Linked DNA regions of Homo sapiens: regions 1, 2, 3, 4, 6 and 7 are each reported to be linked to region 5. The links are microRNA targets in miRTarBase. Many come from high-throughput screens and were not tested one by one. Region 5 holds a microRNA gene; each other region holds the end of a gene's coding sequence. Distances are from middle to middle.
The links. The annotated mature microRNA hsa-miR-6873-5p reads CAGAGGGAAUACAGAGGGCAAU and lies in region 5 at 3,005-3,026, opposite strand. An mRNA with a match to its seed (bases 2 to 7 or 8) in the 3' UTR can be bound and repressed. Matches are read on the target gene's strand: a 7mer-m8 pairs with bases 2 to 8, a 7mer-A1 pairs with bases 2 to 7 and ends in A, and an 8mer does both.

Region 1 (3,000 bases), 100 Mb from region 5:
TGGCCTCTGCCTAACCAGATTCCTCCTGCCTCCAGGTAGATTTTATACTTATTTCAAGGCAGAAACTTGGTGGAAGGAGGTAATCTGTCGCTAATGTGTATTTATTCCTTCATGCATGTATGCATTCATACCCTGGGATTTTTTTCTTCCCTTTAGCTGTGTTCCAGATCATCTCCCTGGTAATTTACCCCGTGAAGTACACCCAGACCTTCACCCTTCATGCCAACCCTGCTGTCACTTACATCTATAACTGGGCCTACGGCTTTGGGTGGGCAGCCACGATTATCCTGATTGGCTGTGCCTTCTTCTTCTGCTGCCTCCCCAACTACGAAGATGACCTTCTGGGCAATGCCAAGCCCAGGTACTTCTACACATCTGCCTAACTTGGGAATGAATGTGGGAGAAAATCGCTGCTGCTGAGATGGACTCCAGAAGAAGAAACTGTTTCTCCAGGCGACTTTGAACCCATTTTTTGGCAGTGTTCATATTATTAAACTAGTCAAAAATGCTAAAATAATTTGGGAGAAAATATTTTTTAAGTAGTGTTATAGTTTCATGTTTATCTTTTATTATGTTTTGTGAAGTTGTGTCTTTTCACTAATTACCTATACTATGCCAATATTTCCTTATATCTATCCATAACATTTATACTACATTTGTAAGAGAATATGCACGTGAAACTTAACACTTTATAAGGTAAAAATGAGGTTTCCAAGATTTAATAATCTGATCAAGTTCTTGTTATTTCCAAATAGAATGGACTCGGTCTGTTAAGGGCTAAGGAGAAGAGGAAGATAAGGTTAAAAGTTGTTAATGACCAAACATTCTAAAAGAAATGCAAAAAAAAAGTTTATTTTCAAGCCTTCGAACTATTTAAGGAAAGCAAAATCATTTCCTAAATGCATATCATTTGTGAGAATTTCTCATTAATATCCTGAATCATTCATTTTAGCTAAGGCTTCATGTTGACTCGATATGTCATCTAGGAAAGTACTATTTCATGGTCCAAACCTGTTGCCATAGTTGGTAAGGCTTTCCTTTAAGTGTGAAATATTTAGATGAAATTTTCTCTTTTAAAGTTCTTTATAGGGTTAGGGTGTGGGAAAATGCTATATTAATAAATCTGTAGTGTTTTGTGTTTATATGTTCAGAACCAGAGTAGACTGGATTGAAAGATGGACTGGGTCTAATTTATCATGACTGATAGATCTGGTTAAGTTGTGTAGTAAAGCATTAGGAGGGTCATTCTTGTCACAAAAGTGCCACTAAAACAGCCTCAGGAGAATAAATGACTTGCTTTTCTAAATCTCAGGTTTATCTGGGCTCTATCATATAGACAGGCTTCTGATAGTTTGCAACTGTAAGCAGAAACCTACATATAGTTAAAATCCTGGTCTTTCTTGGTAAACAGATTTTAAATGTCTGATATAAAACATGCCACAGGAGAATTCGGGGATTTGAGTTTCTCTGAATAGCATATATATGATGCATCGGATAGGTCATTATGATTTTTTACCATTTCGACTTACATAATGAAAACCAATTCATTTTAAATATCAGATTATTATTTTGTAAGTTGTGGAAAAAGCTAATTGTAGTTTTCATTATGAAGTTTTCCCAATAAACCAGGTATTCTAAACTTGTTTCCAGTTTGTAGTTTTTCCATTTTTCAAATCTGGGGAAAGGAATTAAAAAAAAAATGGGTAATAAGAACATGGGATATAATGAAAAGTGGTTTTTGTTTGTTTTTTTGTTTGAAGTTTTAAGGGCCTTGCTCATTTTAGGTGTCCAAAACCAATTTTTGAGTGGAGATTAATGAATTCTAATAGTCTATTCCCTGAACTTTTCCTCAATGAACAATACCCTAGACACACATTAAACAATTTCTCTGCAGTGCTATCAACCAGAGGAAAATGGACTAAGAGATTTCTGGCAGGTTCAGACACCCGGGGGACATGTGTGCAGTGTAGCTGAAGCCTCCTCCTTGTGCTGGGGTCCCCTTCCATTCAGGTGGTGGGGTAGCAGTCTCTCTATTTTCCCCTTGCCCTCCTTCCCATTTTATCATTTGTTATTTTTTTTCCCACCATAAGTCATATGTTACTTCCACTATGGTGTATGTCATTGTGAGGATGGGTGCAGAGAGGCTGGGTGGGAGAACGGAAATATATCTCCCTAGGGCTACTGTTGGCCAGCTAGTCCTTGGCAGTGAATTTTTCTATGCTTTTCAAAATGCGAGGTGAATGTTTCTCATAGAGAAATGTAATCTGGGTGATTATACCAAAATTGAAAAGAAAAACCCACACAACTATGCCGTGGCTGGTGGAGAATTTGAAGTGGTCATTAAAAATGTTAAAAATCCCATCTTTTAAAGTGATACCACAGCTCATTCAAGAAGATACTGGATATCTAGAGATTAAGAAACGTGGTCTCCTGTTAAACATGAAAATGACTCCGTTTATAAGCTTCTCTACCACATGCACTTGTCTTTGCATGATTTCCCATCCAGCCTTCTTCCCCTCCTCAATCACACAATACCTTAACGGCGCACATTTAGGAAAAATGCAACCTCCTGGGACCAACGAGCCTGATATAATAGAACCATGTCAACCTAAAGTATTTATGACAAAGATAAACTCTTATTTTGCAGAAATGGTCTGCTTCCTTCAGCCTTGTTCTAGTATAGAGATCTGCCATTCCTTGTTGATCCAGATTCACCAAGACAGATACCTTTATGTCATAACAGAAGGGAAGTTCCAGAGGATTCTGGAGAGTAATGAAGAATTGGGCTGAGAAACCACCTGAAGGCTAACAGTGCATTGCATGAGATTTCCCACAGTAAAGCTGAGGTGCTTTTTGGTTCAGTAATTAAATATTGAGTTCCCACCCTTTAAATAAGCAGTTCTAGGTTCCTAAGCAATTATTTCACTCTGTAAGTAGCCAGACATGCTAAGTGGCACTTACTGCTGATTGTAACAAAGAAGTAATATATCAAGGTCTTTC
Region 2 (4,521 bases), not on the chromosome of region 5:
ACTGGGCCTGCGTAGACCACACTTGCCTCCTCATAGTCAACACGTGTGTTATGCTCCCCTTCCATGCCAGGGAGGTTCCCTTCTAGAGTCTGAGCTTGGGTGAGGATAGATCCAGGCTTACGGGGAGTAGGTAGCCAATTCCATGGAATGCCTTCAGAGGTGCCAGAAAAGGCCCCATGTTCTCCAGATTGCTTGGGACTCCACCATTCAAATCACATCAGCTTAAGGTTTTTTTTTTAAAACGGGGGTTCAGTAGCACTTTTGTCATTAAAAAAATCACCATGGGCTGGGCGCGGTGGCTCATGCCTGTAATCCCAGCACTTTGGGAGGCCGAGGCGGGTGGATCACAAGGTCAGGAGTTCAAGACCAGCCTGGGCAACATGGTGAAACTTTGTCTCTACTAAAAATACAAAAATTAGCCGGGCATGGTGGCATGCACTTGTAATCCCAGCTACTTGGCAGGCTGAGGCAGGAGAATCACTTGAACCCAGGAGGCAGAGGTTGCAGTGAGCTGAGATCTTGCCACTGCACTCCAGCCTGCACGACAGAAGAGACGCCATCTTAAAATTAAAAAAAAAATCACCATGAAGTCAGCTACCCAAAGACCTTGAGGTGAAGACTCTGGGACCAGGGCTCCAGGAAGCATTTCAGCATAGTAGTTAAAAGCATGTGGGCTTTGGAGTCAGACACACCTGTTCTGGATCCCCAGTGTGCTACTAGCCAGCTGTGTGCCTTTGGGCAAATCACTTCACCTCTCTGAACCCGTTTCTTAAAGCTTACAGCCCCTACCTTGCAGGCCTTTCATGGAAACCAGATGGTGAGGCATGAAATGCTCTGGGGCAGGACTCAGGTGGAGTGGGATGGTGAGAGCTGCCCTGTTCTGAGGGCAAGCCCTGAATTGGAGTGCAGAGGCAGGGCTGTGAAATTCTTCAACTCTAGGTCTCCTGTAGGGCAGCAGGAAAGCCTACTCCTTATCTTGAAGGAAGCCTGGGTCTTGGGCCTGAAAGTCCCTTAGGAGATTCCTATTACCTTAGTGATCTTCAGTGTTACCTTGAATTAGGCAAAGCAGGGCTTATCATCTGCCCACTTAATAGGCATTAAAGGGTTGGGAACCAAAGAGAAGTGATCTACCTGTGATCAGAATGAATGAGACCCACTGGTATGTTTTCCAGTGGTTCCTACCACTGTTCCCAGCTCATTGTCCTAAGGCCACACCCAGAACCACAGTGAAGTTGGGTAGCCTCGTGTCTATTAAGGCTGCTGAATGAACCAGCTGACTTGCTCATGCCCACCCAGCCTGTTTAGCTTTGACACACACCTACCAAACTGCCCCTACTTCTTCCCGTCCAGAGCAGAGCTAACAAACAGCCTGCCTCACAGAATTAGTGTAAGAAGGTACATAAAGTAGTGGCCAGGTCCTCTGTATATGCCACCCCCTGCAGCCTGGCTGAGCTGCCTGTCACCTTTACCCTGGTTTGCCGACTTATGGCACTCAACCCTGTCCCTCCCGAGGACTATGGGGCCTCAGCTCAATTTGTCAAAAACTAAGAAGCTGAAGAATCCTGGGCCCTCGTTCCTTCTCCAAAAACCAATCTAACACCCTGGCCCTCAACCCAAGCACTGAAGGGTCTAGCCTCCAGCTCTGACCATTGGGCTTACGAGGCGGCGAAGCAGCAGTGGCTTCAGCGGCTTGAGGCTGAGGGAAGAGGGAGGGTGGTCGTGTTCTCAGGGCCTAGCTCCACAGCTGCCAAACAGGCTTCCCCAAGGACCCCAGCACTGGTCTCTGGGGGAGTCCACAAGGGGAAGGAGGACTGGGTCCCGGTCCCAGTTCAGTAGTGGACTTTCTGGGTGTTCTTGCCTGCATCACCTGTGTCAGGCCTCAGTTTCTTCAGACACCTACAAACTGGGTCTGAGTGACATAATTCTAAGGGCCCAGCCCTACAGGAGATGCCTTGGGATTCCAGGACCTCACAGTCTCCACTCCTTGAAATTGTAGTACCCCTGCCCACCTGCCTCTGAGTGCAGGTGATAAGAACAGGGACAGAGAAGCGGAGACCCCTGTGCAGCCAAGGCCCTGGCTTCTTGCGGCCTCCTTGGATGCCTAGCTGGGGCAGGGGCAGGTGGAGGGGGGTTGTGGTGGTGAGACTCCAAATGGAAAATATCCTGGCCAGGCACAGTGGCTCATGCCTGTAATCCCAGCACTTTGGGAGGCTGAGGTAGGTGGATCACTTGAGGTCAGGAGTTTGAGACCAGCCTGGCCAACATGGCAAAACCCCGTTTCTACCAAAAACACAAAAATTAGCCAGGTATGATGGTGTATGCCTGTAATCCCAGCTACTTGGGAGGCTGAGGCAGGAGAATCGCCTGAACCTGGGAGAGGTTGCAGTGAGCCAAGATTGCACCACTGCACTCCAGCCTGGGTGACAGCAAGTGAGACTCTGTCTCAAAACAACAAAAAACACAAATGGAAAGTATCCTCAGGCAGAGACCAGATGTTTGCCCTGCAGCCTCCACCCACCCTCTGTGGAGTCAGGGCCTGCTCCACCCAGTTCAGTAACATTTCCTCTGTGGGTGTGGCTGTGGCTGTGGAGGGTGGAAGGAGGCTGACTGACTTGTTCTCACAAGGTCTGGGACTTTGGGGGAGGTGGGTCTTCCTTCCATTTGTAAAATGGAATAAAATAAAGTCAACAGCATCTAAGAGTCTCATGTTCCTCTGGAACTGCAGGAGATGCAGGGCACACAGGAGCACTCTTGTTGTGCAGATAAACAGGCCTGCGGCTGGGGTGGGGGGTTGGGATGGCAGGCACTAGAGTACCAGATTCTGAGTAAGAGCTCAAGTGGCCCGGCAAAGGAAGGGGAGGCACTGCTGTCTCTCAGGTGGCTCCTGCACTCCCCATGTTAGTACAGGGCCTGGGTCTAGAGAGAAATGGACCAGATGACCTACACGGGCTTCAGATTGGATGCTGGAGGTGGAAGGTGGATCACACCCATTTTCAAAGTCAGGTGGTTCCTCCCCTGCCCACCAGGTACCAAAAAGGCCATTGGACCAAGACCTCTGGTAAGAGCTACAAGAGAGGGAGGAGACGCCAAGGTTGAGCTTGCTTTATGGATGACAAGTGGGCTAGGCTGGGCTGTCGGGGGCAGGACGAAGATTCTGGCTGAACTTTCCAAGGGACGGGACGCTTGGGATCCTGGCTGGTACGAGGCCTCCCACACTGTCAAATGTCAACTCCACCAGCACTGAGACAATGAGTAGATGAGAATGTAGAAAGAGGGAAGGTGGTAGGTAAAGGAGCGGAAGGAAGAGGTGGGGAAAGAGGGAAGGAGAGAAGGGAAGGAGGGAAGAGAAAGAAGGAAGAAAAGGAAAGCATGGCCCGGCTAGAGACAAAGCCAGAGGTGATCAGGTCAGCAGCAGGAGAGGCTCAGAAGGGAGCCTCTCGGGAAGTGCAGGCAGCCATGAGGGCTCGTTTCAGCTGCTCATAGGTGACGAACATCACCACGTTCCAGGAACCCAAGCGGAGAAAGGAGGGCATGAACCTAGAGGAGAAAAATCACAGGTCATGGGGGCACCTCCACCTCCCACTTCCCTCACTGGGCCTGGTATTCAATCCAACCCAGTTGCTCTGTCCCAAAGGAGGCTGGGAGGACTCAATGAACTGAGCTCACAGCTGCTTGGCTATAAGCATGAATTCCCTTTGAGTCTCCATTTAACACCTAATAAACAGTGATGGTAGCAATTCTGGGAGGAAGGAATTAAGGGGATAGGTGAATGCTGGTGAAATGCCAGGACCAGGATCAGAAATAGTCACACTTGGCTGCTACTCACTTCCAGGTGGTTCTCTCCCACCCACAATAGACATGCATAGCCAAGAGGCCTGAACTGGGTGGGGAGGACCAGAGGCTCACCCTTTGTAGAAGGCTCGGGGCCCCTCCTTCTGGAGCATGGTAAGGGCACAGTGGCCAGCGCTACTGTACTGGCCCAGGGCAGAGTTCATGTATCTCGTCTTGACCACGTCTACAGGGGAGGCGATGACAGTGGTGCAGAAGCCTGCCCCAAAGGCAGAAGTGAAGTGGCAAGGGAGGTCATCTGCCAAGGAGGAGCAGGCAAGGCAGTCAAGATCTTCACCCATCATTCCAGAAGGCAGGAGAATTACTTAAGTAGCTACGAGTTTTCATGATTTTAAAGAGACAGAGAGGCTGGGCACAATGTCTCATGCCTGTAATCCAGGACTTCTTTTGGAGGCCGAGGTGGGTGGATCACTTGAGCCCAGGAGTTCAAGACCAGACTGGGTAACATGGCAAAAACCCTGTCTCTACAAAATACAAAAATTAGCCAGGCACAGTGTGCATGCCTGTAGTCAGCCCCAGCTACTCAGGAGGCTGAGGTGGGAGGATTGCTTGAGTCAGGGAGGTCGAGGCTGCAATGAGCCATTAATCACCCCACTGCACTCCAGCCTGGGCAACCGAGCAAGACCCTGTCTCAAAAAACAAACAAGAGGATGGGGCGCAGAGGCTCACACC
Region 3 (4,521 bases), not on the chromosome of region 5:
GAGAAGGAAATTACAAGAACAGTCCCATTTACCATAGCGTCAAAAAGAATAAAATGCACAGAAATTAGCTTACCCAAGGTGGTAAATGGCTTGTACAATGAAAACTACAAAACATTGCTTCAATAAAGATAAAAATAAACGGAAATACATCTCATGTTCATGGATTGGAAAATCTAATGTTAATATGTCAGTACTACTCAAAGTGATGTGCAGATTCACTACAGTCTCTATCAGAATCCTAGGATTTTTTTTTTTTTTTTTGCAGAAATAGAAAAACCCATCCTGAATTTCATGTGGAATCTGAAGGGATCCCAAATAGCCAAGTCAGTCTTGAGAAAGAAGAACAAATTGGAGGACTTAAACCTGCAGAGTTTAAAACTTACTATAATGCTACAGTAATCAAAACAATGTGATTCTGGCATAAAGGCAGACGGATAGACCAATGGGATAGACTGGAGAACCTAGAAATAAACCCTCTCATATGTAGGTAAATGATTTTTGACAAGGGTGCCAAGGCTATTCCAAGGATAGTTTTTTCAACAAATAATGATGGGAAAGCTGGATAACCACATGGCTAACTAACAAAGTTGCAACCTCACTCATTTGCAAAAATTAACTCAAAATGGACCAAAGACCTAAATGTGAGAGCTAAAACCATAAAACTCTTAGGATGTGGCAGTGGTTTCTTGGATATGACACCAAATTCACAGACAACGAAAGAAAAAATAGGCAAATTATACTTCATTAAAATTTTGTGCATCAAAGAACACTATCAACAGAGTAAAAAGATTACCTATGGAGTGGGAGGAAATAATATGCAGTTCACGTACCTAATAAGGATTAAACATCCAGAATACATACAAAACTCCCAAAATGCAACAACAGTGTAAAAACCTGATTTAAAAAATGGCAAAGGATTTGGATAGATCTCCAGAGAGGACATGCAGATAGCCAGTGAGCACAGGAAAAAATGCTTAGCATCACTAAACAGTAAGGAAATGCAAATCAAAACCACATTGAGATACCACTTCATACCCACTGGGATAGCTCTTATTAAAATTAAAAAAACACACAAGTGTTGGCAAGGATGTGGAGAAATTGGAACTCTTATTACTGATGGAAATATAGTGGTATGCAGCTGCTGTAGAAAACAGTATGGTGATTTTCCAATTAAATATAGAATTGTCATTTGATTCAGCAATTGCATTTCTGGGTATATACACAAAATAATTGAAAGCGGAGGCTTGAGGGTATATTTGTATACCAGTGTTCACTGCAGCATTATTCACCGTAGTCAAAAGGTAGAAACAACCCAAATACCCAACAGATGAATGGATAGACAAAATGTGTTATATCCATACAATGGAATATTATTCAGCCATAAAAAGGAAATCCTTCTACATACTACATCATGGATGAACCTTTCAGACATTAAGTAAATCACAAAAGGACAATACTATATGAATCCACTGATGTGAGGTACCTAGACTAGTGAGATTCATAGAGACAAAGTAGAACAAAGATTACGTTTTGTCACAGGGAGCAGGAGGGAATGGGAATTTATTGTTTAAGGGGCACAGAGATTAGTGTGGGATCATGAAAAAGTTCCGGAGGTGCATAGTGGTGACTGGTACATACAACGAATGTATTTAATGCCTTTAAACTGTAACTTCAAAATGGTTAAAATTTAAATCTTACGTACATTTTGCCACAGTAAATTTTTAAACCACCAAAAAAAAAAAAAAAAAAAAATATGGCCTAGCTTTTTTTTTTTTTTTTAAAAAGGGCAGGGGGTGGGGTATTTAGTCACAAGACATAGAGGAACTTTAAGTGTATATTGCTAAGTGAAAGAAGTTAGTCTGAAAGGCTACATACTACATGATTTCAAATATATGACATTCTGGAGAAAGCAAAGTTAGTAAAGACTGGTTGCCAGAGGTTCAGTGGGAGAGAGGGAGGGGTAAATACATGGAGTAGAGATTTTTAGGGTGGTGAAACTACTGTATACAATACTATAATAGTGGATACATGACATTATATATTGGTCAAAATCCATAAAGACATACAACAAAAAGAGGACCCTTCATGTAAATTACAGGCTTCAGCTAGCCTGGATGACAGAGTGAGACTTTGTCTCAAAAAGTAAAGTAAAAATGTGTCAATATTGGTTAAACAAATATACCACACTAGTGCAAGATGTTAATAATAAAGGCCTGGGGTGGGGGGAAGCATAGGGGAACTCTATACTATCTGCTCAGTTTTTCTGAAAATCTAAAACTTCTAATAAAGTCTATTAAAATTATGTGAGAGCTTTTCATTTTGTGTACTCTGTCTCAATGTCTTACCCTCATGTGTTTGTGAAATGAGTGAATGATGGGTGATGAATGAATTGGTGACACTAGTGACCCACTGAATTCACAGCACTTACACTGGGCCAGACTGTGTAGAGAAGCCAGCGTGCATCCCAGCCTTGACGAGGACATAGTTCAGAGACAGGCTGTTAGGTTTGGCCGGTGCATGCCCTTCTGCCTAAGCCATTTACCAGCCCCAGACCTTTCCACTGCTCCAAGACTTTATTTTCATACTTCCTTAAAGTTACTATTGCTTTTTTTTCCCCCATGTAACTTAGGTAGAAAAAACTGGAGAAACTAAATTGTTCTGACCTAATCAGTTCTTAATATTGCACCTAAAAAGATAGAAACTGCATTCTGAAAAATCATGCACTAAAAATTACAAGGGAAATAGGTTTGGAACTTTGTGACCTGTGTAGTACAATAACAATCCTAAATTTCCAGTTACTTGCACCTAGAATTAGTCAATCTTTTGCAGTCAAAATTTTGGGTTTTTGTTTCTTCCTTTGAGAGACAGATCCTTGAAATCAGTCACTTCTAGTAGAAAGCATTTTCATCAATATTGAAAGAATGATACAGAGGTATCTATCAGTCAGCGCTTTTTTCTAATTGCCAGGTGAAATGTCTTCTCAGTTTTTTCATCAGTACTTGCAGCTTCTCAGATAACAGCAGGAATGAGGTGGTTTTGAAGCCACTAAGCCAGCTACTCCTTGCATTTAAAGGGTTTTCATCCTTTTTCATAAGATCTTCATATATCCCTTAGGGTTTCTCTCTAGGTGTGTGAACATTTGCCTCTGGTTGCTTCAGCACATCAGCTTTCTGGGGAGAGTCATGTTGAACCAATGTGACTTCGAATTATACTGGTATCACCCCCTACTTAGCAGTTGCCGATGGACTGATGCACATTACAGAAGCACACACACCTTGCAGCAGAATGGATTATGGTTCATGATACGAGTTACACAAGCGTTTTATTTAAGAAATAAAGGATTAGATTTTTAATTCTTTTACCTAGTGGTGTTTCATTTTCTGCCTTTGTAAAATAAAAACAATGATTTGGTTCACTTTGACGTTTCTTCAGTGTTGTTCATGACCTGTGAAAAATAAGTAAGAATTAAGATGCTTTCTCCATTGCAATGTTTCTTACTACGCACACCTATCTACATGTCTCTTATCTTCTTCACATATATAAGCCAACCCCTTCTGTTTGTGATAGGATGTGTTGAGGTAAACTAACCTAGAATATCAAAAATTTCCAGCAGCCTGACAAGACTCCTCAGAACACTGAGTTCTGTCAGATTCCCCATTCAAGTCTCACATATAAAGTTCCCTGCATGCCTGCCCACACCCCCCGCCCCTCACTGTCTTTGCTCACTGCCTCTTACCCAAAGTTCTAACAAGCCTGGTGACCTGTCTTAGATATACAAGTTAGAAAAGGGTGGTTGAGGGGAAAAGATTGCTAGAGTGAGTCACTGTAACAGCAATGACAATAATAGATGGCAAGAAAATACCAAGGAAACAAGGACTAATAAAACCTGTGGCTAATTGGGACTATTTAGAGACAAAAATTCCCTCTGTAGCCAGCAAGTCCTGAGACTAACACCCATATCTGTGGAAATGCAGTAAGAAAAACATGGGTTTAACCTCCCTAAACCTCAGTTTTCTCATTGTAGAGTGAGAATAATACCACCTACTCCATACAGTTGTTAAGGTTTATAGGAGTTAAAATATTTGAAATATTAACCATAGTACCTGGCACACAGGCATGTGGTGTGCATGATCATACTGTTACACTGCTTTCCATTTGGAGAGTTGTGTTGTCAGCATTAGGGCATTATTGCAGTAGGGATGGTGTCTAACAACAATATAAATGCATGCTAAGACTTCAGGCTGTGGATTTATGCTAGGAATACATTGGAAAGATTGCCCGGGGAGGCTTACATTCCAGAAGCACACAAGGCGACATGAATAAACCTATCGATGAAGTAAGGCTTGATGGTGTGGTGGCAGGAGGACATCCTTGGTGAAGGAAGGTCATTAATAAGTTTTAAAAATATAATGTACCTTTATGCTATGATTTTCATAATATGAGCTAACATTATTAAGCAAGTCCCAGTCTTCATAATCGGCTCTCCTCATCAGAGAATCTAACTTTATTTTCATGACATAT
Region 4 (4,521 bases), not on the chromosome of region 5:
TGTGGGGCCTGGAATGCCAGGCTGAGGGGCTGGAACCTTGTCCCGGGGGTACTGGGGAGCCATGAAAGGATTGTGAGCAGGAGGGTCTGGGTCAGCTCTGGGTATAGGAAGACCTTTCTGAGGCCATGTAGGAGACAACCTGGAGGGGAGAGACTGGAGGTCAGGGTAGAGGCTGGCATGAGGGATTTAGGAGAAAAGAACAAGGCCTAAACAGAGAGCAGAGGATGGGGCAGAGAGAGTCAGGGGGCAGTAGGGATGGGGCAGTAGTGGGCTGTTGGAGAGGGAGGGAGTGATGACAGTACCTGGAGATATAACCCAGTCCCCCTGCTTCCATCAAGCTGGAGAAGGGAAACCTTCGAGTCAAGCAGCTGAAGCGGCAGCTGGAGGAGGCCGAGGAGGAGGCATCCCGGGCTCAGGCCGGCCGCCGGAGGCTGCAGCGTGAGCTGGAAGATGTCACAGAGTCGGCCGAGTCCATGAACCGTGAAGTGACCACACTGAGGAACCGGCTTCGGTATGGTCATCCCACGTACAGGCCTGACGGGTGGGGAGCACCCTAACTCCATAAACCCCAGGGACGCGAGGCCGTGCCAGGGGCAACAACAGGGGGAAATGGGATCCACGGGGGTGTGGGGCTGTGGGAGCAGCGGCTGTGTTGCGGGAGAGCCAAATCCAGGTAACTTCTTTCTTCCCACACCCATTTCTCCCTGTCATCTCTGTGCCCTCCTTTCCCACCGTGCACCACCACCTTTCTCTCCTTTCCTCCTCTCTGTGTGTCCTTCATCTCTCTCTGCCCCCCATTGCTTCTGCCCGTCTCCCTCCATTTCTCTTGATCTCATCCCTCTCTTCCCCCTTATTTTGTTCTCTCTCTTCCTATCTCTCTCTCTCTCCCCCTCATCTCTCTCTCTCCTCCCCCTTTCTCCTCCCCTCCCCTCCCCTCATTTCATCTCTGTATCCTGGTCTCTCCTCCCCACAGACGCGGCCCCCTCACCTTCACCACCCGCACGGTGCGCCAGGTCTTCCGACTAGAGGAGGGCGTGGCATCCGACGAGGAGGCAGAGGAAGCACAGCCTGGGTCTGGGCCATCCCCGGAGCCTGAGGGGTCCCCACCAGCCCACCCCCAGTGACCCTACCCTGTCCCCAGATGCACTAACAGATGGGGCCCAGCCCCCTTCCTCCCTGGACCCCACGGGCCCCTGTCCCAGGAACCCCGCCCTCTGACTTCTTGCCCTTTGGAAATGGTGCAGCACTCTGGCATTTATCACCCCCACCTGGGTCCCCTGCAACCTCCCATCAAAGGATGACCCCTAAACACAGAGGAGCGGGGCAGGCAGGGAGGCAATGACTGGAGCTACCTTGCTTGTTGGGGGACTGGGTACAGTTGGCAAGCTGTGTTTCCATCAGCTCCCTGTCCTCCTTTCTTCCCTCGTTATTGATCTATAGACATTAGGAAGGGAGTGAGACGGCTCCTCCACCATCCTCAGCCAGTGCAACCCATTCCCTCTGCTTCTCTCTCTCTCTCTCTCTCTCCCTCCCTCTCCTTCCCTACCCTCTCACCATCTTTCTTGGCCTCTCTGAGGGTCTCTCTGTGCATCTTTTTAGGAATCTCGCTCTCACTCTCTACGTAGCCACTCTCCTTCCCCCATTTCTGCGTCCACCCCTGAACTCCTGAGCGACAGAAGCCCCAGGCCTCCACCAGCCTTGAACCCTTGCAAAGGGGCAGGACAAGGGGACCCCTCTCACTCCTGCTGCTGCCCATGCTCTGCCCTCCCTTCTGGTTGCTCTGAGGGTTCGGAGCTTCCCTCTGGGACTAAAGGAGTGTCCTTTACCCTCCCAGCCTCCAGGCTCTGGCAGAAATAAACTCCAACCCGACTGGACCATCTCTGTGGCTGTGTGTGTTCCTGCAGGGGGTCTCTGATGGGGCAGGATGGGCACAGGCTGCTTCAGCCTGCTAGGGCAGCAGGTCAGGCAGCCTGCTGGTTAGAATGACACCTGCGTGGGTATACAGGGACATCCTGTGGATCAGGCGCTTCATAACTCCTTTCCTCCTGACTCCAGTGTATAATGGAAATATTCCCTGCATTATACAGATGAGGGAACAGTCTCAGAGCAGCAGCATCCCTCACTCCACGCCCCCAGTGAGTGCTAGAAGGGGTGTTGCACTCGGGCCAACTCTTAAGTTTTGCAAAATAAATGACAGGCCTGCTGCAGTGGCTCATACCTGTGATCCCAGTGCTTCGGGAGGCTGAGGTGGGAGGATCACTTGAGCCCAGGGGGTGGAGGCTGCAGTGAGCTATGATTGCATCACTGCACTGTAGCATGGGTGAAGAGTGAGATCCTGTCCCAAAAGCAAAACAAAACAAAAAGACAGCCGTGGTCGTTTGTGCTGCGTGCTGTGCTAAGCACACAGTTTATCTTAACCCTTACATAGCACTACAGGTAGAGATTTCATTGCACTCCAGTGCCTAGAACAGTGTCTGGCACACAGCAGGCATTCACTCAATATTTGCTGAATAACTAAGTGATGCCCCTCCCACCCTTTTAGAGTGGTGGAAACAGGCTCAGAGAGGCTGAGTGACTTGCCCAAGGACACACAGCTACTAAGAAGTTGAAACAGTTTGAACCCAGACAGTCTGGCCTCAGAGTCAGCACATATAGAGGCTGAGCCCTCAGCCCCTGACCCCACCTTGGGGACCCAGGTCTGTCTCTCTCGTGGGAACTAGGCACCCTCGTGTGGGGGCTCACGTTCGTCAGACTGAGTCCTCAGTGACTTTTCAGTTAGAGGTGTGGATCCCCATTTTTACTATCAGGGAAACTGAGGCAGGTGCTTGCCCTAAATAAGGTGCAAGCCGTGGAGCAGATGTCACGATCACCAAAGCCCATCCTCCCCTTTTTTAAAAAATTGAGAAAGGGTCTCACTCTGTCACCCAGGCTGGAGTGCGGTGGCACAATCATAGCTCCCTGCAGCCTCGACCTCCCAGGCTCAAGCGATCCTCTCGCCTCAGCCTCCAGAGTAGCTGGGACTACAGATGCCACCACACCTGGCTAATTTTATTTTATTTTTTGTAAAGACAGGGTCTCTCTTGTGTTGCCCAGCCTGGTCTTGAACTCCTGGCCTCAAGCGATCTTCCTGCGTCCTTGGCCTCCCAAAGTGCTTGGATTACTGGCCTGAGCCACTGTGCCCAGCAATAGGGCCCCACTCTAGAAGTCCCAATCCCTCTGTGCGCCCCAGCCGCAATCAGGAGACTTTCCGAACAGGCACACAGGAGGCCATTTTTAAATGAAAAGGAAACGTTTATTTTGGTGGGGAGTGAGGGTGGGTGGGAAGGGGGCATGACACTTTTTCTTTGGGGAGAGGGGGGTGACATGCGGCAGCTTCTGCATTGGGCGGTTCATGCACCCAGGGTGGGCGTGGGGGAGGCTTGGGGAAGGGGCCACGCCGACCCCTCCCTCCCTGCCCTGCGGGTGGGCTGAGAAGACCCGCCATTAGCACCAGAGTTGGACGATTTGCAGACCTCCCCTCCCCACACTGTCTCCGAACCCCGCCCCCATCCCTGAGAGCGCCCCCTCACCACTCCCCCCACCAGCGACAGGCTAGGCCCGCCCCGCCCACATTTGAGTGAGAGAAACTTATTGCTCTGTGTGTGTGTGTGTGTGTGTTGGGGAGGGTGAGCCGCGGAGCTCAGGAAGACCCCCCGCCATTCATTCCTCCCCAATCGCCCCGCCCCCTGGCCCGTGTCCGTGCGTTCCCGGAGCGCAGGAGGGGTGCGACATGCGTGTGGGGGGCGCGTCATGCAGCGCATGCGTGTAGGTGCAGGCACCCTGGCGGCCGGGGGGAAAAGGGGGAGCCGGACTTGGAAAGAGTCCCTTTAGCTCGCTCTCTCCCTCCCCGAATCCCACACTATTGACTTGGGGGATGGGGTGGGAGGGGAGGAGAATCACGTTTTGTAGAAGTTTATCATGATTGTGGTTATTTTGAAAAGCTGAACTCAAAAGCTGGGTACGTGTGGCGGACTGGCGAGCAGGGGGAGACGTTGGGAAGAGGTCAGTACCCTTTGGAAAAGACCCTCACCCCCTTTCCCCGCCTCCTTCGGCTTTCGTGAAGGTCAGGGGAAACGGGGGGGCTTGTTAAAGAAGTTGAACCCTTTGGCAATATAATCAGTCCCCACCCCGTACCCTGGTGTCTGGAGCCCCTAGCCCTTTGCCCCGCCCCCACCAAAACCCGCCCCACCCCTCACCCCTGCTTCACCAGGGTTTAGGGTCCGAGGGAAGGATGGGGGGGACTCAAAATGCCCCTTGCATAGGAATCGTTGCATCGAGAATCGTGCTCAGTGACGCCCCCCATCCACCCTCGGGTGGGGGGTTCCTGAGGCCGTGGGAGCAGAGGGAGGGAGGTGGCTAATTCCGTGGGACCCCGGCTCCAAAAGGGGGGTCCGCTAAAGAGTCTGGGACCGGTGTGGTCTCTGGGCTTGGGGGAGGTAGCGCATCCTTGAGCCAGGATAGGAGGTGGGAAATGATTTTCCA
Region 5 (4,521 bases):
AAAAAAATAGCCACAAGTTTTTATACCTAAAGGATAACGGGAGCACCACACCAGGGCAGGCTCAACGATTCATCCTTTTGTCTCCAGAACCTCAGCGCAGAGCCCTGCCCACAGCAGGTGCCCAGTGAATACCTGATGACAAAAGGAATCAGAGGAAAATACAAATCAGACAGAAAAGCTGTGGAAAATGCAGATACTCCCTCAGGAACAGCAGAAATCCAAAGCAGACACCACCTCCACCCCTCACATCAGCCAGACCTGGAGAGAACGATCATCTTGAATGACAATGATGAACACAGCGCTCCCTATTTTGCTAAGCGCTGTGCTAAACTATATGCCTTAACTCATCTTAATGTCTACAACAGCTTATATGAGGGCTTTAAACCAAGGCTTGGTAAACTACTGCCCATGGGCCAAACCTGGCCCATCATCTAGTTCTGTATAGCCCACAAGCCAAGAATGGTTTTTACATTTTTAAGTGGTTGAAAAAAAATCAAAAGAATATTTTGAGACTGTGAAAACCGTATGAAATTCAAATTCCAATATCCAACAAATAAAGTTTTATTGGAACGGGGCCACACTATTTACTTAATACTGTGGCTGCTTTTGCTCTACAACACACAGCCGAGTGGTCACGACAGCGACTACAGCATCCTGATTTGCACTGCTGCTTTGTACACTACAAGTCACAGTGACACAGTCGTAAGTGCTTCACAGCATTTCAAGCACCTCACATATCACCTATCATTACCTGTGTGAAAAGATGTTTTCAAAGATGAAATACTTGCAATCTCTACAGATCAGCATGAACATGAATATCTACAGTCAAATTTGACCATCTGGAACACTAACTTTGTACATCAATTAGGCAAAATGTTAACCTCAAAAAGAGAAATTCAGTTCTTCCCATTAGTAGATCTGTATTACACAAATATATTTGATTATTATTATTTTTTTTTTCTGAGACCGGGTCTCACTCTGTTGCCCATGCTAGAGTGCAGTGGCATGATCACAGCTCACTGCAGCCTTAACCTCCTGGGCTGAGGTGGGAGGATCACCTCAGCCTCCTGAGTAGCTGGGACTACAGGCATGCACCACCACACCCGGCTAATTTTTCTATCTTCTGTAGAGACAGAGTTTTGCCATGTCATGGGTGACATGGCTTGTTTCGAACTTCTGGGCTCAAGTGATCTGCCCACCTCAGCCTACCAAACTGTTAAGATTACAGGCATGAGCCACTGTGTCCAGTCTCATATTATGTTTTGTTTGTTTGTTTGTTTTTGAGACGGAGTTTTGCTCTTGTTGCCCAGGTTGGAGTGCAATGGCACAGTCTTGGCTCACTGCAACCCCTGCCTCCCAGGTTCAAGCAATTCTCCTGCCTCAGCCTCCCAAGTTGCCGGAATTACAGGCCCCCGCCACGACACCCGGCTAATTTTGTGAATTTTTAGTAGAGACAGAGTTTCGCCATGTTGGCCAGGCTGGTCTCAAACTCCTGACCTCAGGCGATCCACCCGCCTTGGCCTCCAAAGTGCTGGGATTACAGGCGTGAGCCACCGCACCTGGCCATATTACGTTTAATTTTATAACCTAAAAATGTGTGGGCCAGGCGCAGTGGCTCACGCCTGTAATCCCAACACTTTGGGAGGCCGAGGCGGGCAGATCATCTGAGGTCAGGAGTTCAAGACCAGCCTGGCCAACACAGTAAAACCCCGTCTCTACAAAAAAATACAAAATTAGCTGGGCATGATGGCAGGTGCCTGTAATCCCAGCTACTTGGGAGACTGAGGCAGGAGAATCGCTTGAATCTGGGAGGCGGAGGTTGCAGTGAGCCGAGATCACGCCACTGCACTCCAACCTGGGAGACAGAGCAAGACTACGTCTCTCTCAAAAGATTTAAAAAAAAAAAGGTCAGGCGCAGTGGCTCACGCCTATAATCCCAGCACTTTGGGAGGCTGAGGCGGGCAGATCACTTGAGGTCAGGAATTCGAGACCAGCCTGAACAACATGCTGAAACCCTGTCTCTACTAAAAATACAAAAATTAGCCAGGTGTTGTAGCAGGCGCCTGTAGTCCCAGATACTCGAGAGGCCAAGGCAGGAGAATCACTTGAACCTGAGAGGTGGAGGTTGCAGTGAGCTGAGATTGCGCCATTGCACTCCAGCCTGGGTGTCAGAGCGAGACTCCATCTCAAAAAAAAAAGTTGTGATAATTTGTTTTCTCTTGGTATTTAAATGCCTACATGGTACCCTTTGATTTTACCTCTTATCAGCAAATCATAAAATATTTACTATCTGACTCTTTACAGAAAAAGTTTGTGGACCCTTGAAATGGACACTCATATTTCCATTTTCGGGGTCAGGAAACTGTGGCACACAGAGGTTATGAAATATGCCTATACTTGCAAGGCCCATCCGTGGTAACACTGCGATTTAAACCTGGGCATCCTGGCTTTAGACTCTGTGCTCCTAAAGCACACTGCCTTCCACACCTTTCTGCCCACCTATGACTCCTAACACCTCACCCCACCAGTGACTTACGTGCCTGTAGAATCTACTGCCACAGCCCGGACCCCACCACGATGACAGAGAATCTTTGCCAGTGGCTCCTTCATAGCTGGACTCCATAAAGACACAGTACCTGGAAGAGAAGAAGAACCAAAGTTGCTAATACACACCTAAGCCTGAGGTTACTAAACATGGGAAAGATGGGAACTCAAGACCAAGAGATAACAAAAAAGGGAAATAAAAGGGTAACTTTAAGGGACTCATGAAGTACAAATATAGAAGAAAAGCAAGTCAGGATGGTCAGAGTCAAAACTAAGCCAGGTACTGACCATTGCTGTGTCCGAGATGGATGACGGCATTGTAAGGGTTCTGACTCATAACATCGAGCCGCCCAGCTCGAGCATTCAGAGCTGCCACAATCTTCCCCACTGACACATCCAGGTAGGTTAGAAACCCTGTTTCTGACTGAGAGAGAAAGACAGAGAGAATGACCCAGTCCTGATTGCCCTCTGTATTCCCTCTGCTGGGGTCCTAAAGGAGAGGTGGTCATCCCAAGGGCTTCCAACCAGTTCCTGAGCTCCATGGCCACTCACAGCTGTAGCCAGGAGGAAGTGGAAGGGCAGGAACTCAAGCCGTGTTACTCGGTCACAGCGGCGGATACAGTGGAGCTCAATGCCCTGATTGTCATAGATGTGGAGCCAGCGGTTCTGAGCAACAGCAAGCAGTGCCTCAGAATGGAGAAACCTGGGGGAGAGGAAGAGTGGTTCAATTGGGAAATGAGGTCACAGGCTATCATTCAATCAGGAATGGACTATCTCACCCCAACTGACCGCTGACAGTGAGGCCACTGACCGGATGTCCCGCACCGCCTCCATGACGTTGATCTCGCACATAAGCTTCTTTGTTACCCAATCAAGGGCAGCCACATGACCTCGGCGCCCTCCAAAAGCCAGGTGTCTGTTGGAGGTGAGGGGCAGGCAGGGTGTTAAGGCAGGGGACCACCGACTCAGACAACTTGAGGTCTGCCCCACGCCAGCCCCATCTCTCCAGGCGGGCAGACACATGTTGCTGTAGGTGCTTACCCTCACACCCAAGCAAATCGAAGGACCCTCCCCTCATCAGCAACCCAAACATACACTGGGAATGGCTGAAGTGGTTAAGGAAACACATCTTAGTTCAAGAGTCACTAGAATTCAACCTTACCTTCCAGTTCGAGAGTAGTTTAGTCTGTAGGGTCCAAACTGCCGCAGATTCAAGTCAAAGTGCTGGGAAAGAGAAGAGTGAAAAAAAAGAGTGCCCTGCAGTAACGCCTTCTTCTAGCCCCCATTCCTCTATTGTCCTGCACCACCAATCAATCCCTTGGCTCCTTTACCTCCTCAGGCTCACCTTGGCTGCACTTGCAATGTCCACAGCCTCCACAATGTCAGCCTGGCATATCTTTGCTGTGTCTTCCCCATCCTCCCCTTCCAGAAACCTGAAAGCAAGGGTTAGGATGGCAGTAAAGCTTCCCAATATGAAGCAAGTATACCAACATAAAAACGAGAAAAGACAGTCCCAAAAGGCAGGGAATGGGGGTCCAGATTAGGGCTCACTCACCCAGGTTCTTCAGCAAGCAGCAGCTCAGAACGAGCAGCTTTGATACTTGTTTCCTCTTCCTCAGCTTCAGCCACCTCAAGTCGGCTTCGAGTTTTGGCTTTAGAATGTGGTAGCTGTAACATTGTTGGTGGGGAGGAGTGGCAGAAGAACCACAGGATAAGTGGGGTCACAGGAGAGCTACCTGTCCCAGCCTCCATCCAACTCACCCAGACACTCCCTGCCTCCAGCACTTCCCAACTCTCCGGCTGGACCTCACCTTTCGGGATTTGTCAATGCGACAGAACTTCTGGACCACTTCCACAGGGACGGGGGCGGGGCCTGGGAATGGATCTTGGGTCTAGGGGAAAGGAGGACGCAATTAGCAGACAGCCTTGGATTGACCCCAACCCTCTCACTCTCAAGGAACGAGGCGGCCTGCCTCG
Region 6 (4,452 bases), not on the chromosome of region 5:
GAGCCTCCCGAGTGACTGGGACTCCAGGTGCGTGCCACCAAGCCAAACTTCCCTTTCAGTTCTTGACATTCCTTTTCTGCTTTGTATCATGCATCTCCCCAGATCTCCCCTAACTTCATTCAACCATGTAGTTTTATAAGGGCCAGCAGACTATCTAGGAAGCAGGAGTAGCATGACTTTAAAGTGATTCTCTGTGCCAATCTCTGCAACTGGTTCCTTTGGCAGGCTCTGACAGATTACCGGGCAGAGCTCCGGGATGACCCAATCATCAGCACACACTTGGCCAAGTTGTATGATAACTTACTAGAACAGAATCTGATCCGAGTCATTGAGCCTTTTTCCAGAGTACAGGTGAGAACCCTCTGGGGACTCCATTTCTGGCCAGGCATTCTCACTGTAGCCACCTCCCTTCCACACCTGTCCAGAATGGGAACTCACTTCTAGGGGTGTGCCTGGTGGGCAAGAGGCCACCAAGAGCTTGGGCCTCTGTTGATAAAATGAACAAAAATCGAGGAGAGAGATGCTGTGGGTAGAGGCATGTGGGTTGCCCCTGCATGTGTTCTGAGCAGTTTCCTCCTCGCTTTTAGTCACTGCATGTGTTGTACCTGTTTTCTGTATTGGGTGTGTGGGATAAGAGTCTGTTTATTGTGTGTAGCAGTGAAGGGCAGGCAGATGGGCAGAGAACAAGAGACTTAAGCACGGCCAAGGAGGGTCTTACATTAGAATTTTGAGAAATACAGCAGTTCTCCCCCTGTTCCCTCCCTTCTCTTATTGGAGGCAAAAGTAAAACTTTCAGTGTTGGTGTCTCTCTGCCTTTCCTTTTAGATTGAACACATATCTAGTCTCATCAAACTCTCCAAGGTAAGGAGTCTTAAGGCCATCTGCAGGGAGGAATGGGACGGGGTGGCGAGGAGGGGTGGCACATGCACCTGATTGGCCTCATTGGAAAGCTCCCCAGCTTCTCAGTGGGGAATGGGCAGTGTGGACTAGAGTAGGAGTTGCATTGTTGCTATTTTGTTTTCAGTCCATTTGGCCTAAGACCCCTCCAACAAAGCTACTGTGTCAGGGTGATCTCTGACTAGTGGATACTGGTCCCTTTAATCATGTGCTTTGATTTTAGGCCGACGTGGAAAGGAAATTATCACAGATGATTCTTGACAAGAAATTTCATGGTAAGTAACAGTCACACAGGCAAGGGGGCTGGTGGTGGTGATGAGATGGTTGAAGAAGTTTATTTTCAAAGAAGATGTTCTATTTGTTTCCCCCGATGGTTCACCCTGGGGTCCTGGCCCCTCTTCCCTGTGATGAGAATGTGTAATAAGCATGTGTACATGGAATAGGGAGATGAATTCTATTTCCCTTCTTTTCTGGACACAGTGAGTCAACTAGGGAGTGGGCTGCTTCACAAACACTTTTGTGTCTAACCTCATCTTTTACCTGGGTTGCCCTTGTGTTTCTTGCAGGGATTTTGGACCAGGGGGAGGGTGTCCTGATTATTTTCGATGAACCCCCAGTAGATAAAACTTACGAAGCTGCTCTGGAAACAATTCAGAACATGAGCAAAGTAGTGGATTCCCTCTACAACAAAGCCAAGAAACTGACATAGGTGAGTGCTGGCTTCAGGACCCCAGGGCTGGGCAGCTCTGTCTTCTGCGTGTCGAGACTGAAAACCTCCTCCTGGTGTCCTCATGGCTTCCTGATTGACACTGCTCTGTCTTCTCTTGCAGAGTTGGATCTGTAGCGGTCCTTTGGAGAGTGTGTGTGGCGGGAGAGTGAAACCTTGGGGGAAAATGCTAGGAGATTCTTTTTTCTTTTTGTTCTACTTTTCGCTCGGAAAGTTTTTAAATCCTCATTTGGTGCATCTGTATTCCAGCCAATAGGTGTGCCAGTTTTCATGTAATCTTTACTGGCCCAACTTGGGAGTGGGGAAATTGCTTAAAAAAAAAGAAAAAGAAAAAAAAAAAGATTATTCTAAATAAAAGGAAAAAGGCTTACACTACCTAAAGCTGTGCTCTCTGCCTCCTGGGAGAGGGCCGCAAAGCCAGGCACCCCGCCAACCACTGGGGGTCCTAATCCACCTGCTGGGCATCACCTCTCCTCCTCCTCAGAATTGGGTGTTTGCTGACCATCAAAAGCAATGACTTTTTATTCTGTTTGTACTGAACCAAAACAAACAACTGTGTATAGACTGCTGTTTTCTTTTTTATTTGAAATGAGGCATTTTGGTGTTCTTTCCCCTACCATACGGCCTGTCTGCCCTTCCCTCCCCACATTGGCTCCAGCAGAGTAGCCGAAGGTCCTGCCGCCGCCGCCACCACCACCACCACTGCAGCAACAACAGCAGCAGCAGCAGCAGCGCCTGCATAGCTCCACTCTGACCTGTGAAGGAATGGGGATGAGGCCAGGAGCTAGTGTCTACCACGGCCACACAGGGAGCAGTGTGGGCCCTTAGCCCCCAAGGGGCCTGCTATGCATGTGGCTTTTTTTTTTTTTTTAAACACAGTAAACTAGATTAGTCGTCAGTGTTTTAATTGCCCCTCTTCTCCTCTCCTGCATTCCTCTCCTCTCTTCTTTCCTCTCTGTCCCTTCTCTTTCCCCTCTCAACCAGGAGACCATCATGTCTCTCTGCCTTCCTCCTCTCCCCTCCAGGGGAGTCAGGCTGTCTGTGAAAGCCATGAGCTTCTCTCCCTCTCCCACTCCTCCTCTCCTACTTTCAGATGGATTTATTCCTTTTTTAAACAATGAACATCGGAAATGAGACTGTGGGGTGTGGTTTCTCTCTCTCTTTTTTTTTTAATTTTCTTTGTTGGGTTTTTGAGCAACCTCATGTCCCCTTCCCAGGGAGCTTTTTAATTTACCTCTTAGAACTCAAGTGGATGGGAAGTAGAGCACTATGTGTCAGTATGCTTTGTTTTCTGACACGATTACACAGCGAGGCTTTAATGCCATTTGGGTAGGTGAGCTTCTGCACTTCTGTTGTGCTGAACTGTATTTTCTTCTCTCATCTCCTCTTTGTCTTTTTCTCTTTTCCTCTCCTTCCTGCCTTCTTCTGCTGGCCTCCTTTTCTCTTTCTTTACCTTCCTTGGATTATCCTTCCAGGTTTTCATAATAAATTTATATTTTGTAAAAGGATTTTGTTGTACCAGGTTTTGCATCCTCACTGAATCTGACTGGCTTTTATTTTCCTCTCCAAAATCAGGTTTTTGTTCTCAACATCTTTCCCCATCATGTCTAGTCACTGTTTTGGTTTTGGCACCATCAGTATCAAATGTACAAACGGTTCTTGCTAACCAACACCAGGTATATCTGATGTTCAGATGAGTTCCAATAAAAATAATTTTTTTTTTTTTCAAAAGGTGTCTTTTTCTTGAGTGCTGGAGGGCTTCCAAGCAAGTCCAGACAGCTCTGTGTGGCCCCACACTAGTCTAGCTCTCATCTGGCCAAAGCTGTTATCTCATTTGTGTAATGGGAGTCCTTAAGGTAAATTTGGGGTCCAAACTTGGAGGGCTTTGGGGGCAAGAAAGTTGGTGTGTGAGTTCTGAGGTTGGAAATGAGTTCAGGTGTCTTCTTCCAGGGCAGCATGGTCCAGTGAGCACATGTAAGTTTGGGCAGTAGATCCTCTGAGCCTACTTTCTCTTCTACTCAGTGAGGATGCTGCTTCCTTGGCAGGTGATTGTGATGTGAAGCTTAGTAAGTCATAGACGTGCAGGTGTCTGGAGAGTCCTGACATGCAGTTGTGGTTTCGTTTCCTTTTGGAATCTTCAAAGGCAGCGATTTTCATATTGCCTCACACCCTGGCGGGGGCGGGGGGCTCTGGGACCACTGGGGGACCTGCTAAATCCTCTTCAGTCTGAGCAGTTCAGCCATTGTCAGTTTTAGTATTGTGTCTCTGTATTTCACTTGCAGAAAGAGCTTTGCTTCTATAAAGGACTTTAAAAAGTACTCCAAAGAGATCTAGTTTTGGAGTAGAGGGGAGATGTTTTCTCAAACTTAGGGCAGTCCTGAGATGCTCAGGCAGTAGCCCTTTTCTCAGTTCCCTTTGCGGGTCTTGGTCAGATGATGCCCTCTAGACCCGTGCTGTCCAATATGTAGCCGCTAGCCATGTGCAGCTGTCAGGCCCTTGCAACGTGGCTGGTTCGAGCTGTGATACACTGCAAGTGTAAACACAAACCAGACTTCGAAGGCTTAGTATGATAACAAAAGAAAAGGAGTGTAAAATATGTCAATAACTTTTTTATATATGTGTTGAAATATTTTGGGTATTGGGTTAAATAAAATATATTATTAAAATTCACCTGTTTCCCTTTTACTTGTGTAATGTGGCTGCTAGAAAATATAAAGTTACCTATGTGGCTTCTATCTGGACAGCGCAGCTCTAGACCTCCAGGACCAGCAGTTGTGTCACTGCCTCCTCTCCCAGGCCTCTCATGACCTGAGTCCAGGCACAGCTGG
Region 7 (3,000 bases), not on the chromosome of region 5:
CTGCCAAGAAGGTGCCGGCTGAGGAAGGGGTGATGGAAGAGGCAGAGCTGGTGTCAGAGGAGACCGAGGGCTGGGAGGAGGTGGAACTGGAGCTGGATGAGGCAACGCGGATGAACGTGGTGACATCAGCCCTGGAGGCCAGCGGCTTGGGCCCTTCACACCTGGACATGAATTATGTCCTCCAGCAGCTGGCCAACTGGCAAGATGCCCATTACAGGCGGCAGCTGAGGTGGAAGATGCTCCAGAAAGGTGAGTGCCCCCACGGGGCCCTCCCTGCCGCCAGCCGGACAAGCTGCAGATCGTCGTGCCGATGAAAAGAGAGGGTGGATAAGCTCCCCGAGTGCTCACCTGCCCCAGCCTGGCTCTACCTGCTGTGCTTATTTGCATGGACTTTGCATATCATTTGCATAGACACCTCTGATCCCCTTCAGTGGGAACCGTAGTGTCAGTGCTCATTTATGTGGCATTTGCTTAGGATTCCAGATCTCCATCCACTTTTCTCCTGGGGGCTGGGCTGGGGGTTAGGGCTGGGACTGTGCCCCCACACTGCGCCTCAGCTTCCCATCTCTGCCCGCTTGCTTCCCCTGCCCCCAACCCCTGCCTCCTCTATCCCCCAGGCTCTCCAACTCTGCAGCAGTGGCAGCAGCAGTCAAAACAAACACGGGGGGCGGTGGGTGGGATGGTGGAGCAGCCCGGGGGCTGACCCAGGCTGGAGGACAGGGCCAGCCACCCTCCCACGGCCTGGGAGGAAGAGAGGCCTTCTGGGACTGCCCAGGCTATGGGGACAAAGGCCTTCACCAGCAAGGGCCACAGTTGGAACAGTCCCCTGGGTGTCAGAAGGTGGGCTAGGGCCTCCTGCAGGGTTGTGGGGTGGAACAGGGTCTCCTCTCCCCAGCCAGAAACCCCAAAGTCTGGGAGCTGCACCTTCCGAGTGCAGGCCATGTGAGCCCTGCCTCTTTAAGGAGCCGCAGGACATGAAAGATGACCTTGTGACACTCATGCACAGCAGCCATTGCACGTGCATCAGCTCCCATCAGCCTCATTCCGTGGCAGGTGATGTGTCCCCATTGGTTAGGTGAGGAGGGTGAGGCTCAGAGAGCTAAGGACACTTGTTTGGGGCCACACAGCCGGGGTAGATCTGAGCCCGTCCTCTCTACTCCTGTGCTGTAGCACCTTCACTGGCCCATCCCTCCCCTCTAGTGCTGTCCTGGTACCCGTCCCAGCCTGTCCCCATTCTCATGGCCCTTTGGTCACTGCCGGGTGGAATAGCACTGGCTTCAGCAGGCGTGTCATGTAAGCTTGTGCAGGTTATAAACTGAACCATGACCTTTATGGCGCATGCAGGGGGCAACCTGCATAATTATCAATGGCGACTTTCCGTGTCCTTCTGATACAGTTGATCAGACCCCTGCCCACCGCCCAGGCCAGGCCTGTGGTCATCAATGCCCCAGTTCACATCCACCTGCTTCTCTTCCAGGCTTTGCTGTTCCCCAGCAGCCTGCAGAGGCCCCACAGACAGCTTGAGGCCCCTCCTTCTGCTGCCTGGCCAAGCCCCACACCCGCAGACCCTCCTTCCCATCCTCTGAAATGGGACCCTGTGTCTGTCACCAGCCCACCCTCTGTGTTCATGAACCTGGGCTGGAGCTTGGGGACCCCTCCCTGCCCCTGGCTTCCTCTTCCATGTTCTGCCCTTTCCCACATGTTGGAGGCTTTTCCAACGTCTTCAGGGACAGGCGGTAGGAACCCCGGCCCTCGCTCTGCAGCTGGTGCAAAAGCTGTGGCTGCCAGGTCTGGGCCACATGGCAGCCCAGGGGGCAGGAGAAGCCCGGGAGAGGCCCACTGGCTACCAGACTCAGCCCTGAGCAGGGAACAGGGCCCAGCTTCCACCGGCAGGGAGTTGTGAGCGCCTTCCCAACAATGTGCCCCTCACCCCTTGATGCCCATGCTAATGGTAGCCACCCTGGTTCTTGTTGACTTGAGGGACCTGGCTGTCTTCCCTGTTCTTCATCCTTTCTTCTCAGTCCCTACCTACTGTTTGTAACCACAAGTGTCTCTGTGTGTGGGTGGGTGAGGGCCCCTCTGCCCAGTGGTGTGTCTCCTCTCCCTCCCTCCCTCTTCTGCCAGTGGCCTGGGGGTGTCCAGGCTCCCATCCGTGGCCCAGCCCCTCTCCCCTCTGTCTTGATCCCCCCCTCCCTGCCCCTGGCTTCCTCTTCCATGTTCTGCCCTTTCCCACACCTTTGTTCCTCAATAGCTGGGGGCTGGGACTGAGGCCTCCTGCAGGTACCTGCCCCCCTTCACACAGCACCTCTCAATCTCCTATTGCTTGTCAGCCTGTGTGCGTGTGGTGCAGGAAATAAAGGATCTATACCCTCCTGGCCCAGCCTCCAGCTGTCTCTCTAGGGAGTGTGTGTGTGCACTTGGCAGGGCGAAGTTGTAGAGAAAGGGTGGATGCTAATATTGAAGTATGTGCCGAGGACTCCTATTAAATACGCCGTTTAATCATAGCAGCAGCTCCTAGAGGGCGGTGGGTGATGTCATAAGTGTCTGTTGGATGGAGAAACTCAGGCCAGAGTAGGTTAAGTGATGCCCTCACCAGCAGATCATGGCTAGTGTGGAGCTGGGATTTGAGCTCATGCTTCCCTGATCCTTTCACCCCAGAGACTGACTCAGTGGCCTGGCTGTGAAAGATAGGATGGGAGAGAGTCACCCACTGTCTTAGGGTGAAGTCCCCAGAGCAGACCTGGAACAGGGTTTAGGAACAAGTATAGTCGCCCTCCGTATCCTCAGGCTCTGCATCCGTGGAGTCAACTAACCACAGATAGAAAATATTTGGGGGAGGCTGGGTGCAGTGGCTCATGCCTGTAATCCTAGCACTTTGGGAGGCCGAGGTGGGTGGATCATTTGAGGTCAGGAGTTCGAGACCAGCCTGGCCAACATGGTGAAACCCCGTCTCCACTAAAAATACAAAAATTAGCTGGGCGTGGTGGTGGGTGCCTGTAA

Region 1: miRTarBase lists PERP as a target of hsa-miR-6873-5p. The part of its 3' UTR that is shown has no 7-base or 8-base seed match.
Region 2: the mRNA of UCP2 is a reported target of hsa-miR-6873-5p. Seed matches in the 3' UTR shown: 7mer-m8 at 3,316-3,322 and 7mer-m8 at 3,271-3,277.
Region 3: miRTarBase lists NRG4 as a target of hsa-miR-6873-5p. Seed matches in the 3' UTR shown: 7mer-m8 at 1,951-1,957.
Region 4: the mRNA of MYH14 is a reported target of hsa-miR-6873-5p. Seed matches in the 3' UTR shown: 7mer-m8 at 1,496-1,502, 7mer-m8 at 1,530-1,536 and 7mer-m8 at 1,797-1,803.
Region 6: miRTarBase lists PSMD11 as a target of hsa-miR-6873-5p. Seed matches in the 3' UTR shown: 7mer-m8 at 2,686-2,692 and 7mer-A1 at 4,063-4,069.
Region 7: the mRNA of HAP1 is a reported target of hsa-miR-6873-5p. Seed matches in the 3' UTR shown: 7mer-A1 at 1,193-1,199 and 7mer-m8 at 2,110-2,116.

The regions. Positions count from the first base shown.
Region 1 is chr6:138,089,425-138,092,424 of GRCh38, reverse strand. It overlaps PERP (p53 apoptosis effector related to PMP22), which reads left to right. Exons shown (of 3, transcript NM_022121.5): 3 at 157-3,000. The coding sequence ends at 383. Among named protein-coding and RNA genes, the nearest start is that of PERP, 16 kb to the left of the region's middle.
Region 2 is chr11:73,971,585-73,976,105 of GRCh38, forward strand. UCP2 (uncoupling protein 2) reads right to left here. Exons shown (of 8, transcript NM_003355.3): 7 at 3,907-4,087; 8 at 3,088-3,537. The coding sequence ends at 3,423. Among named protein-coding and RNA genes, the nearest start is that of UCP2, 9.0 kb to the right of the region's middle. RefSeq lists an enhancer at 2,705-2,794.
Region 3 is chr15:75,940,210-75,944,730 of GRCh38, forward strand. It overlaps NRG4 (neuregulin 4), which reads right to left. Exons shown (of 6, transcript NM_138573.4): 6 at 727-3,445. The coding sequence ends at 3,429. FBXO22 (F-box protein 22) reads left to right here. Exons shown (of 7, transcript NM_147188.3): 7 at 1-2,302. Among named protein-coding and RNA genes, the nearest start is that of FBXO22, 39 kb to the left of the region's middle.
Region 4 is chr19:50,308,667-50,313,187 of GRCh38, forward strand. MYH14 (myosin heavy chain 14) reads left to right here. Exons shown (of 43, transcript NM_001145809.2): 42 at 339-511; 43 at 974-1,874. The coding sequence ends at 1,124. It overlaps KCNC3 (potassium voltage-gated channel subfamily C member 3), which reads right to left. Exons shown (of 5, transcript NM_004977.3): 5 at 3,271-4,521. Among named protein-coding and RNA genes, the nearest start is that of KCNC3, 18 kb to the right of the region's middle. RefSeq lists an enhancer at 4,439-4,521.
Region 5 is chr6:33,284,259-33,288,779 of GRCh38, forward strand. MIR6873 (microRNA 6873) reads right to left here and starts at 3,031; the gene lies at 2,969-3,031. WDR46 (WD repeat domain 46) reads right to left here. Exons shown (of 15, transcript NM_005452.6): 3 at 4,356-4,436; 4 at 4,100-4,212; 5 at 3,890-3,977; 6 at 3,707-3,768; 7 at 3,356-3,460; 8 at 3,097-3,247; 9 at 2,833-2,968; 10 at 2,537-2,636. RefSeq lists enhancers at 2,974-3,507, 3,508-4,041.
Region 6 is chr17:32,479,026-32,483,477 of GRCh38, forward strand. PSMD11 (proteasome 26S subunit, non-ATPase 11) reads left to right here. Exons shown (of 14, transcript NM_002815.4): 10 at 226-351; 11 at 826-861; 12 at 1,121-1,172; 13 at 1,464-1,606; 14 at 1,728-4,294. The coding sequence ends at 1,606. Among named protein-coding and RNA genes, the nearest start is that of CDK5R1, 5.7 kb to the right of the region's middle.
Region 7 is chr17:41,722,015-41,725,014 of GRCh38, reverse strand. HAP1 (huntingtin associated protein 1) reads left to right here. Exons shown (of 11, transcript NM_177977.3): 11 at 1-2,375. The coding sequence ends at 314. Among named protein-coding and RNA genes, the nearest start is that of HAP1, 11 kb to the left of the region's middle. RefSeq lists an enhancer at 1-222.